Homo sapiens: one gene and its partners. The protein of the gene in region 1 interacts with the protein of each later gene in a biochemical or structural test. Each region holds a gene or a part of one and is shown in the gene's direction. Other genes may lie near its edges.

Region 1 (5,557 bases):
CTCTGGCTCTCTTCCTCTCCTTTTATTTTCTGAATTGTTTGAAAGCTACCATATTATGACACTTCATCCTTAAATGTTTAAACATGCATCTTCTAAAAAGAGGCATTCTTAGATATGACTAATACCTTTATTATGCCTGAGAATTTCAACACATCCTAAATATTATATCTAGTTTTTATTCAAATTACTCTGATTTTCCCATCTTTCATAGATGCTTTTTTTTCAAACGAGGATACAGTCATCGTATAATGCATTTGATTAAACCTGTTTAGTCTCTTAATCTAGAACAAGTACTCTCATTGTTTTAATGACAATAACTTTTTGAAGTATCCAGGCTGGATTTCTCATAAATGTCTTACTTTAAGTTATTTGTCTGATTGCTTCCCCATGGCTTTAAGTCATTTCTCCATCCCTTTACTTCCCGTAAACTGGAAATGTTTGAGTTGAGGAGACTGAGTTTAAACATTCACTGGTGTTGTCCTTTATATTGTGTCGCCTAGGGAGGCAGGAGGTCCAGTGTCAGTATTGTCGTACCTGGGTAGCTGGGAAGTGCCAGATTGCTCCATTTTCAAAGTAATATTTTTTCAACCTGTGTTGCTTAGTTATCTATGATGTGTTACTTGGGCACTTTATAATTATCCCGTTCCCCAATACTCCTGCATCCTTTAGAATATGTTGATGACCTTCACTGTGATTACCATGATTACAAAATCATGATTTTTCTAAATCTTTCATTCTATTTACATTATTTTAGTTGGTATTCCTGATTAAAAAGGATTGTTCTTCCTTTCTTTCTCTTTTATTTTTTTATTTTTTTTTGAAACAGAGTCTCACTCTGTTGCCTAGGCTGGAGTGTGGAGTGCAGTGGCGTGATCTCAGCTCACTGCAACCTCTACCTCCCAGGTTCATGTGATTCTCCTGCCTCAGCCTCCCGAATAGCTAGGACTACAGGTGCCCACCACCACACCTAGCTAATTTTTGTATTTTTAGAAGTGATGGGTTTTCATCGTGTTGGCCAGCCTGGTCTCGAACACCTGACTTCAAGTGATCTGCTTTCCTCAGCCTCCCAAAGTGCTGGGATTACAGACATGAGCCACCATGCCTGGCCTTTTCTTGTTTTCTCTTTTCCCTCCCTCCCACTCTTTGGAATCACAGTGGACTCATGGATTAATTTTTTCTGATTCAATTTGTTAGGATAAGTAATAGTCATTATTCTTTTTGATGTTGACATTTTTCAAATTTGGCCTGGGAGAGCCCGTTCAAGCCAGCTCCTGTCCTGTTGACATAACCATCTAGCACTTGCCATGGTCTCACTTTTTAACCTCTATTGTTTCAAGATTTGGAATCACCCATTTCTTTAAAACTCCTGGTTTCTTCTAGCAGTTATATTGGACTTTGGAAAGCCTACCTGCTGCTGGAGTATTATTCCTTCTGGGCCTTTTTCAGTGGACAGAGCTAGGAAATATATGCATCTGTGTATAAAATAAAGTTCATTATATCATGAATTCATATATATCAGGCTTCAGTAAATGAAAGTAAAAAGTACATTAGAAATCCTGAGTTTATGTAGTATTTCCAGTCCAAATTTAGCAGTATAGAGCTTTTGTCTTCACTTCTGTGTTTATGTTTAATCTCTCATCATTTACAGGAAAAATTTTGGCTCCAATTACATTAGTGTATTGTTTCCTTTATAATATACAGTAAGTTCTCACTTAACATGAAATGATGGATAATGAAACCAGTTTTTTTCCTCATCAACTTTATAATGAAAGGATGTTGTAAAAATGAGAACACTTGGACACAGGGTGGGGAACATCACACACCGGGGCCTGTCGTCGGGTGGGGGAGTGGGGAGGGATAGCATTAGGAGATATACCTAATGTGCCGGGTGCGGTGGCTCAGGAGTTCGAGGCTAGCCTGGCCAACATGGTGGTGCAAACCTGTAATCCCAGCTACTCGGGAGGCTGAGGCAGGAGAATCGCTTGAACCTGGGAGGTGGAGGTTGCGGTGAGCTGAGATCATGCCATTGCACTCCAGCCTGGGCTACAAGAGCGAAACTCCGTCTTAAAACAAAAACAAAAACAAAAACAAAAACAAAAAAAACGAGTTAATGGGTGCAGCACACTAACATGGCACATGTATACATATGTAACAAACCTGCACGTTGTGCACATGTACCCTAGAACTTAAAGTATAATATAAATAAACAATAAAATAAAAAAGAAAGGATGTGGAACAAAATGTTTATTGAGGACCTGGTGTGCGTTGTTTCTCTTAAAGTCAGTTTCCAAAAACCTGTCGATGATTTTAAGTGAGGGCACACTGTATAAAAAGTAAGAAAATTAGACAATCAGTATTACTATTAACAGTAAACAAATTGAGCAGAATTTGAGATTTATTTGCTTTTTTATGCTTAAATATTTCCCAGTGTGAAGCTTTAAAGTTATTTGAAATATTTGTGTTACCAATTTGGCATACAATTAATTTTTTTTTCTATTTATATTACTGGGATTTACTCTACATTTTTTGAGACAGGGTTTCACTCTGTCACCCAGGCTAGAGTGCAGTGGCACAGTCATGACTCACTGCAGCCTTGACTTCTTGGGATCAAGCAAATCCTCTCATATCAGCCTTCTGAGTAGCCAGGACTACAGGTGCGCACCACCATGCCCGGGTAATTTTTTTGTGAAGGTGAGGTTTCGCTGTGTTGCCCAGGCTCCTCTCAAAACTCCTGGGCTCAATCGATCCTCCTGCCTTGGCCTCCCAAAGTGCTGAGATTTTAGGCATGAGCCACCATGCCTGGCCTACATTTTTAATTTGTTTTATTTTGAATGTAAAACGTTTATATGGTTCAAACATTAAAACTATATTTTAAAAAATATATACTCCAAATCTTGATCTCATCTTCTCCTTATACCCTATTCATAGCTACTTCCTATAGGTAACCATTTTCATTAGTTTCTGGATTTTTTTTTCCCTGTGTTTCTTTTCTAAAAATGTGTTAACATTTTATGTCTACTCTTATTATCCATCCTGCTGCATGGAAGTATTTTATATACATTTTTCTGTACTTTTTAAACTTAAGAATTGATTTATAGGAAATATTTTTTCTTAGTTCAGAGAGGTTGTCATTCGTTTTCCAGCTCCATAGTACTCAGTAGTGACTGTAATACAGTTCAAACCAGTCTTCTGTGGGTGGACAGTTGGGATCCTGCAGTGAATAACTGTATACTGTTTCATGTTTAAGGAGCTGTGTCTCTAGGACACATTCCTAGAAGTGGGATTGTTGGATCAAGGGTAAATACATACATAATTTTATTAGATATTAACAGATTCCCCTCCTTAGGAATTGTCATATTTGGCCTTCCAGCAGCAGTATATGTGTGTGTGTCTGTCCACACCCTCAGTCAAGATTTGTTGTCAGCTTTTGGGTTTTTTCCAGTCTGATAGTGAGATACCATGATATCTCGTGGTAGCTTTTATTTTTATCTTATGAGTGAAAATGAGCATTTTTGCTTATATTTCTCAGTGCCATTTGCAGATTTCTCTGAACTGCCGTTCAGAGGTTTTACTTACTAAGGAACTATTAGTGACCATTTTCTAACAGTGAGTACTCTTTACCCTATCATAAAATTGTCACTTGTACTTTTGGTGCCAAATTCTTCTATATCTTTATTGGGTGAGTTATATTTATGATCTTTAAAAAAATTATATTTGAATAAATATTGTGCACTAGCTATTCAAAATAAGGATTTAGATGCAAAGGTTTTTTTTTTTTTTTTTTTTTGAGACAGAGTCTTGCTCTGTCACCCAGGCTGGAGTGCAGCGGCACAATCTCGGCTCACCGCAACCTCCGTCTCCCAGGCTCAAGTGATTCCCCTGCCTCAGCCTGCCCTTTTAGCTAGGTTTACAGGTGTGTGCCACCATGCCCAGCTAATTTTTTTGTATTTTTATTAGAGACAGGGTTTCACCATGTTGGCTAAGCTGGTCTCGAACTCCTGACCTCACATGACCCGCCCACCTCAGCCTCCCAAAGTGCTGGGATTACAGGCGTGAGCCACTGTGCCCAGCCTGTAAAGATTTTTTGTTGGTATAAAATCCAGAATGGTACCAGAATGCCAATTTTATTCCTTTTTAAGAAATAGCTCTAATTAAAGGTGCAGCACTTCAAACGTGATTTATACAGTTGTTTTTATAGGAAAATGGAAATATATTGTAGGGATAGGTAGCAGGACACTAATAGTGAGTCCCACTCATGACTGTAAGTAGTGACTTTGGGAGGTATCTTAAATACTGATGTCATTAAGTAATTAACTTGAATTACTTGTATTTTACTTTTAGTTATTAAGCTGACTGCTATTATAGTAAATATGTGTCTTAAACTTAGAGTGAAATGGAAACTGCTTAGAAGCTTAGCTGTGTAGGAGTTAAAGTGCAGGGGAACAGATGGGAACATTTAATTTATAGAAATAATTCTGGTGGAGTTCTAGGGCTGTGCCTATTTGTTTTAGTTGTTGTGAAGAAGCAAGCCATCTTGTATACTTAAAGAATGATGTCATCCCTAATTTAGTGGGGTGGGAGGAGTGAGAGTATTTAAAGATCATGTGGATATTAAGATACAGAAGTCATAAAATATTTGTAATCTTCATAGTATCTGTAGGTTAAGTAGTGGTTCTAATTTCTGGGAGGAAGCTCAAGTACTCCTTATTTTGTTGAACCATATTTAATTTAAAAGACCAACCAGCAGTTGAAAATTTTCTATTGCTGTTTAGAATAGATTCATCCCAACTTTGGTAGAGGAGTCCATGGCTGAATATTGCCATGAGTGAAGAAAGATTCTTTCTCACTTTCTTCTGGAAGCTTTGTTTTCATCCTCCTTTGGATTGGCTTCTGAGAGACCATAAAAAGAAATGGGTGTTGATTGCATTTAATGGTTCCTACTGTGAACAAGCAGTAGGTACCGTTCTTGCCCTTTCAGTATCTGCAGACTCATTTTATCAGAAGAGTGCAACTGATAAACTTTGCATAAGAGAAAATGTACTGGCCAAACATTGATTTTGCTTACATACACATACTTAACACGCACATTCTTGACCTACATCTATTTAAAAAAAAAAAAAAAAAGAACTTGTATATAAAAATCTGAACAGATTGGAGAATACTTTGCCATATAAAAATTTAGTATTTTGTATTTATTGTATATTTTCTCAAAATATTACAAGGCTTTAAAATATTTTAGAAATAACAATAATTGGATTCATACATAATTTTATAGTAATACTTTTGTATAAAACCATAACAATACTTTTGTATAAAGCAAAATTCGTTTTACCCTTTTAGTGACTTTTATGTCATAAAAGACTAAAGGATGGCACTTATAGATTAGCACTATGAACTAACTTGTCTCAAGGTTAACTGGCAGCCTCAACTCTCCAGAACCTGTCAATGAACAGAAAGCAAACAGAACAACACTGACTTGTTGAGAGTTGTGATAAATTTCATAAGAAAAACGTTTGACTTTCTAGCAAGTGTTTATTTACTCTTTTCTTATAAATAC
Region 2 (2,260 bases), on another chromosome or scaffold:
CGCTGACCTATTTTTAAATGACACAAATTCATGAAACTAATGTTACAAATTCATGCAGTTTGCACTCTTAGTCATCTTCCCCTAGCACACCAATAGAATGTTAGACAAAGCCAGCACTGTTTTGAAAATACAGCCAAACACGATGACTTTTGTTTTGTTTTCTGCCGTTCTTAAAAGAAAAAAAGATAATATTGCAACTCTGACTGAAAGACTTATTTTTAAGAAAACAGGTTGTGTTTGGTGCTGCTAAGTTCTGGCCAGTTTATCATCTGGCCTTCCTGCCTATTTTTTACAAAACACGAAGACAGTGTGTAACCTCGACATTTTGACCTTCCTTTATGTGCTAGTTTAGACAGGCTCCTGAATCCACACTTAATTTTGCTTAACAAAAGTCTTAATAGTAAACCTCCCCTCATGAGCTTGAAGTCAAGTGTTCTTGACTTCAGATATTTCTTTCCTTTTTTTTTTTTTTTCCTCATCACAACTAAGAGATACACAAACTCTGAAGAAGCAGAAATGGAGAGAATGCTTTTAACAAAAAAGCATCTGATGAAAGATTTTAGGCAAACATTCTCAAAATAAGAGTGATATTCTGGATGTAGTTATTGCAGTTATCTCATGACAAATGAGGCCTGGATTGGAAGGAAAATATAGTTGTGTAGAATTAAGCATTTTGATAGGAATCTACAAGGTAGTTGAATATAATAAGCAGGTTTGGGCCCCCAAACTTTAGAAAATCAAATGCAAAGGTGCTGGCAAAAATGAGGTTTGAGTGGCTGGCTGTAAGAGAAGGTTAACTCCTAGTAAAAGGCATTTTTAGAAATAACAATTACTGAAAACTTTGAAGTATAGTGGGAGTAGCAAACAAATACATGTTTTTTTTTTCTTACAAAGAACTCCTAAATCCTGAGTAAGTGCCATTCATTACAATAAGTCTCTAAATTTAAAAAAAAAAAAATCATATGAGGAAATCTAGCTTTCCCCTTTACGCTGCGTTTGATCTTTGTCTAAATAGTGTTAAAATTCCTTTCATTCCAATTACAGAACTGAGCCCACTCGCAAGTTGGAGCCATCAGTGGGATACGCCACATTTTGGAAGCCCCAGCATCGTGTACTTACCAGTGTGTTCACAAAATGAAATTTGTGTGAGAGCTGTACATTAAAAAAAATCATCATTATTATTATTATTTGCAGTCATGGAGAACCACCTACCCCTGACTTCTGTTTAGTCTCCTTTTTAAATAAAAATTACTGTGTTAGAGAAGAAGGCTATTAAATGTAGTAGTTAACTATGCCTCTTGTCTGGGGGTTTCATAGAGACCGGTAGGAAAGCGCACTCCTGCTTTTCGATTTATGGTGTGTGCAAGTAAACAGGTGCATTGCTTTCAACCTGCCATACTAGTTTTAAAAATTCACTGAAATTACAAAGATACATATATATGCATATATATAATGGAAAGTTTCCCGGAATGCAACAATTAGCATTTTAAAATCATATATAGGCATGCACATTCTAAATAGTACTTTTTCATGCTTCATTGTTTCTCTGGCAGATAATTTTACTAAGAAGAAAAATAGATATTCGACTCCCCTTCCCTAAACAAATCCACGGGCAGAGGCTCCAGCGGAGCCGAGCCCCCTGGTTTTCTCGTAGGCCCTAGACGGTGTTGCATTTATCAGTGATGTCAAACGTGCTCATTTGTCAGACATAGCTGTAAATGAAAACAATGTGTGGCAAAATACAAAGTTAGTTAAATACACACCCTCTGTGTGATTTTTTGCTCCCTTTTCTTTTTTGCTCCTACTCAAAAAAAAAAAAATCACCTCCTTTACATTTCCCTGGCTTCTTGCATGTTTCCCTTTTCAAAAACCATGTAATAATTTTTTACAATGTATCTGACACATTAATATATTGACATCAAATAGGCAGACATTCTACTTTTGCCTGGCAAATAAATCTGCTACGGAGACATCATTTCCTCACTGTCTCAAAGCCATAACTACCTGGGAGTCTTTCAACACAGACCCCTCCGATGGGAAATGCTGTTTATTACTGAATGCAGGATGCTCACGCTCTGATCTTTTCTCCCTTGTGCCTTTACCCCAGTCATTTTTACTTAGCAACACCAATTCTAGATACTTCTGTTCTGAAGTAGAACCACCCCCTTGCCACACTGCCAGTTTTCCTGCTAAAAGCAGTGGACAGAAGACAGATCATGGTCACCCTCACAAACATGGCACACAGCTGTCTCGGTAGCTG
Region 3 (3,587 bases), on another chromosome or scaffold:
AAAGGAATTATTTCTAACCCAGATGTATCACTTGAAACTTTTTAGAAGCAAAATAATCAGGGAAGTTCCTAGAAAGGTGTTTGGCTTTTTGGTTTTTGAGGGTTGGGGTAAAGAAGACTTCCCCCACAACTGTCAGCACAAAACAGGGTATTGATTTTTAACTCTGATGTTTCTATTGGAGTTGAATACTAAATAAATAACTATAATGAGGGAAATACATTTCTAATAAAATTCCCTACATTCTAGAAACATCCCTGTTTTAATTTTTTTATCTAAATCTTTTTGTGCTTTATGTGTAAAGAAAAAAATGTACTGAGTTACAATGCATTTTATTAACACTATGTACATAATAGCTGCTTTGTGTTCAGAATAGTAGCAGTTGCTTTGTATATTAAAGTGATCCTTGTGAATTTGTGAAATATTGTCATAAAGTGCTTTTTCTTACTGTAATCTTTGTGGTATCAACTGTCATAATGCTCTTTTTACACAAACATTTATGTGCAGTCACATAAACATGCTTTTAAAAACTCTGTAAGTCTCTTTTTTGGGGATGGGATCTCTATATTTTGTTGGGTTTTTTTTGCTAGTAGTGTGAAGCCATGTTTTATTGGACTTAAAGTTACAATATATTACAAGCTTGTGTTGGAAGGCAGCAAAACTAATTCAGACAACAACATGTCTTCAGTTACTGGATCCCTAATTTTCAGGACAAAACCTGTTTTTCAATAAGATTGAACAGTGCCTATTTGTGGATTTGGAGATGTTACTGTCAAGATGACTAATGGAGACATACGACCAGCTGTGTCTGATGTCATAAAACACGTGTTCACTGAAAGGACAATAAGACTATATACCTTCTCAGGTCCCCTTGCAATTCTAAAACTCTGTGATCATATAAATTGGAAGGAAAGGGGAGGGGATATGGTTAATCTTTGCTTAAGCTGTAAGAATAAAAAAGTTATCTCCTATACTATTAACTTCTGAAATAAGTTCTGAGACGAGACATCTGAAAATAAGCAGCTGCATTATTTGTATGTTTCTTCACTGCCAAGATGTGTTCAAGCCTGCTATACCTGCCATTGTATTGGAAGGCTTAATGAATTTCATTTATTTTCTGCAACAACGATTACAGAATTTATTGCACAAAATGAGACATTTTGAGAGTGATATTAATTACATGAGGGACAATAGGCATGAACTAGGATTGTTCTAAGCAAATCGGAATCGGGTCACCCTGCCACGTTCAGGTGCTTGGACCTTCAGGAAAAGATTGCCCATCTTGTCATTTGACCAGGCACTGAAGTGACAAGACCATCCTTGAGAAGTCACATCCAAAGATAAAATTCTGATCCATTTCTAGTTTTAGTGTTTCGCCACTGAAGACTTAACATATGTCTTTTACACTCAGGTTGCAAAACACAGGCCCAAGACAAACTTAACTTCTCCCCCAAATCTTCCTTCCGCTGGTTTTTCCATCTCGTAAGTGGTGCCACTATCCATCTGTTAAATTGTTTAGGGGAAACCTAGAAAAGCACTACCTTAATCAGTGTTATCCTTCTTCTTAACTGTGCGTCCTAATTTCTCCACATCTTTCTTAAGTGCAGTGACCAAACCGGATGAGAATTCTAACACGGGCCTGACATCAAATGGAAAGGAAGGATAATGTCCAGGAGTTGGAATGTTATCCTTGTTTTTAATTAAGATGCAATTCACATAAATTAACTTTTTAAGTGAACAATTAAGTGGTAGTACATCCACAATGGTGTACAACCACCACTTCTATCTAGCTCCAAAACATTCTCATCACTCCAAAAGTAAAGTCCCGTTACTCTCCATTTTCTCCTCCCACCGCCCTTGTCCCTGGCAACCACCAATCTGCTTCCTGTTTCTTTGGATTTACATCCGGGTATTTCATGTGAGACTCATACACTGTGTATTACTTCTTTCGTCTAGCTTTAATGTGTTGTTGAGGTTGATCCATTGTAACATGTTATCACTACTTCATTCCTTTTTATAGCTAAGTATACTTTTTATAGTAAGTATGCCATTGTAGATATATACCACAAGTTTATCGATTCATCCAGTTGAGTTGTTTCTACTGTTTGGCTAATGTTCATAGTGCTGTTATGAATGTTCGTGTACAAGTATTTGAGTCCGTGTTTTCAATTATTTGGGGTATATGCCTGGGAGTGGAGTTGCTGGGTCATGTTGAAATCGCACATTTAACTTTTTGAGGAACTGTCAAACTTTCCCTCAGCAGCTGTACCGTTTTACCTTCCACCATTGATGTATGAGGGTTCCAATTTCTCCACACCTTCACCAACACTTATTTTGCCATTTTAAAAATTATAGCCATCCTCATGGGTGTGGTCTCTCATTGTGGTTTTGATTTGCATTTCCCTGATTACTAATGATGTGGAGCATCTTTTGTTGTCTTTGGCCATCTGCGTATCTTCTTTGAAGAAATGTCTGTTGAGGTCCTTTGTTCATTGAAATTTTGTTGTTGGGTTCTGAGTTCCTTATATATTCTGGGTACTAGGCCCTTATAATATTTTCGCCTATAAGTTTTTGCTTTATAATGTCCTCATTGTTTTCAAACTTACTTTATGTAATATGTACACTTCTAAAAAAAAGAAACATGGAAAAGGGCAAACTGTAAGAAGTTTTTTGTGTTATGTTTTTTGTGACAGTCTGTGCATATATACACAAATATAATGTATGTTCTCTCCTCCTCCCTCTCCCTTTTTTTACACAAAAGGTAGGTACAAACAGTGGTTTATAAACTGCTGCCATTGTACAGATACAGTTTAACCAGTCCTCTTCTGGGGACATTTGGCTGTTTGAAATTTTTTACTGTTACAGATATACAGAGGTTGGTAACTAGGTCTACACAAGTTGTATCTCCAGGATACTGAGAAGTAAAAGTTATTTCTGAATTATGGTTTTCTTCATATTTGGATATTGTTTCCTAATGATTATTAGGTATCTGCTAAGCAATTTTTATTAACTTATGTTGATTACTATTTTTATGTCAAACTTTACAGTCTAGGCATTTTTTTCTGGAATTAAAATTAGAAGTGGCACAGACTTTCATAAGGCTTTCCTTTTCTCATCTCTGTTAATACTGTTTTCTTTCTAATATCCTCAGAAATAACTGTTCTTAGCAAAGAAACAAGTTTTCAATATGCCATCTTTTCTAGTGTTACTAAATTTTTAACCCCTCTGGTTGTAGAAGGAAAGGTGTAACATGATTTTAGAGCAGAAAGCTAACAATTAAATCTTCAAGTTGGGCCGGGGTGCGGGTGGCTCACGCCTGTAATCCCATCACTTTGGGAGGCCGAGGCAGAGGAGGGCAGATCACCTGAGGTCAGGAGTTCGAGACCAGCCTGACCAACATGGTGAAACCTCATCTCTACTAAAAAATACAAAAATTAGCCAGGCATGGTGGCAGGCGCCTGTAATCCCAGCTACTCGGGAGGCTGAGGCAGGAGAATCACTTGAACCCAGGAGGCGGAGGTTGCAGTGAGCCGAGATTGCGCCATTGCACTCCAGCCTGGGCGACAGAGCAAGGCTCCCGTCTCAAAAAA

Evidence for each region.
Region 2: the proteins of BACH1 (region 1) and MAF interact in a test that uses a peptide from one of them, tested with the Homo sapiens proteins (one large-scale study listed by IntAct).
Region 3: the proteins of BACH1 (region 1) and CREB1 interact in a test that uses a peptide from one of them, tested with the Homo sapiens proteins (one large-scale study listed by IntAct).

Annotation. Positions count from the first base shown.
Region 1 is NC_000021.9:29,335,864-29,341,420, forward strand, and holds part of BACH1 (transcription regulator protein BACH1), read left to right. Parts: intron 1-5,557. UniProt on the Homo sapiens protein: Transcriptional regulator that acts as a repressor or activator, depending on the context. Binds to NF-E2 DNA binding sites. Plays important roles in coordinating transcription activation and repression by MAFK.
Region 2 is NC_000016.10:79,593,338-79,595,597, reverse strand, and holds the end of MAF (transcription factor Maf), read left to right. Parts: exon of another isoform or gene 1-1,044; coding exon 1,045-1,138; 3' UTR 1,139-1,760; downstream 1,761-2,260.
Region 3 is NC_000002.12:207,602,902-207,606,488, forward strand, and holds the end of CREB1 (cyclic AMP-responsive element-binding protein 1), read left to right. Parts: 3' UTR 1-3,087; downstream 3,088-3,587.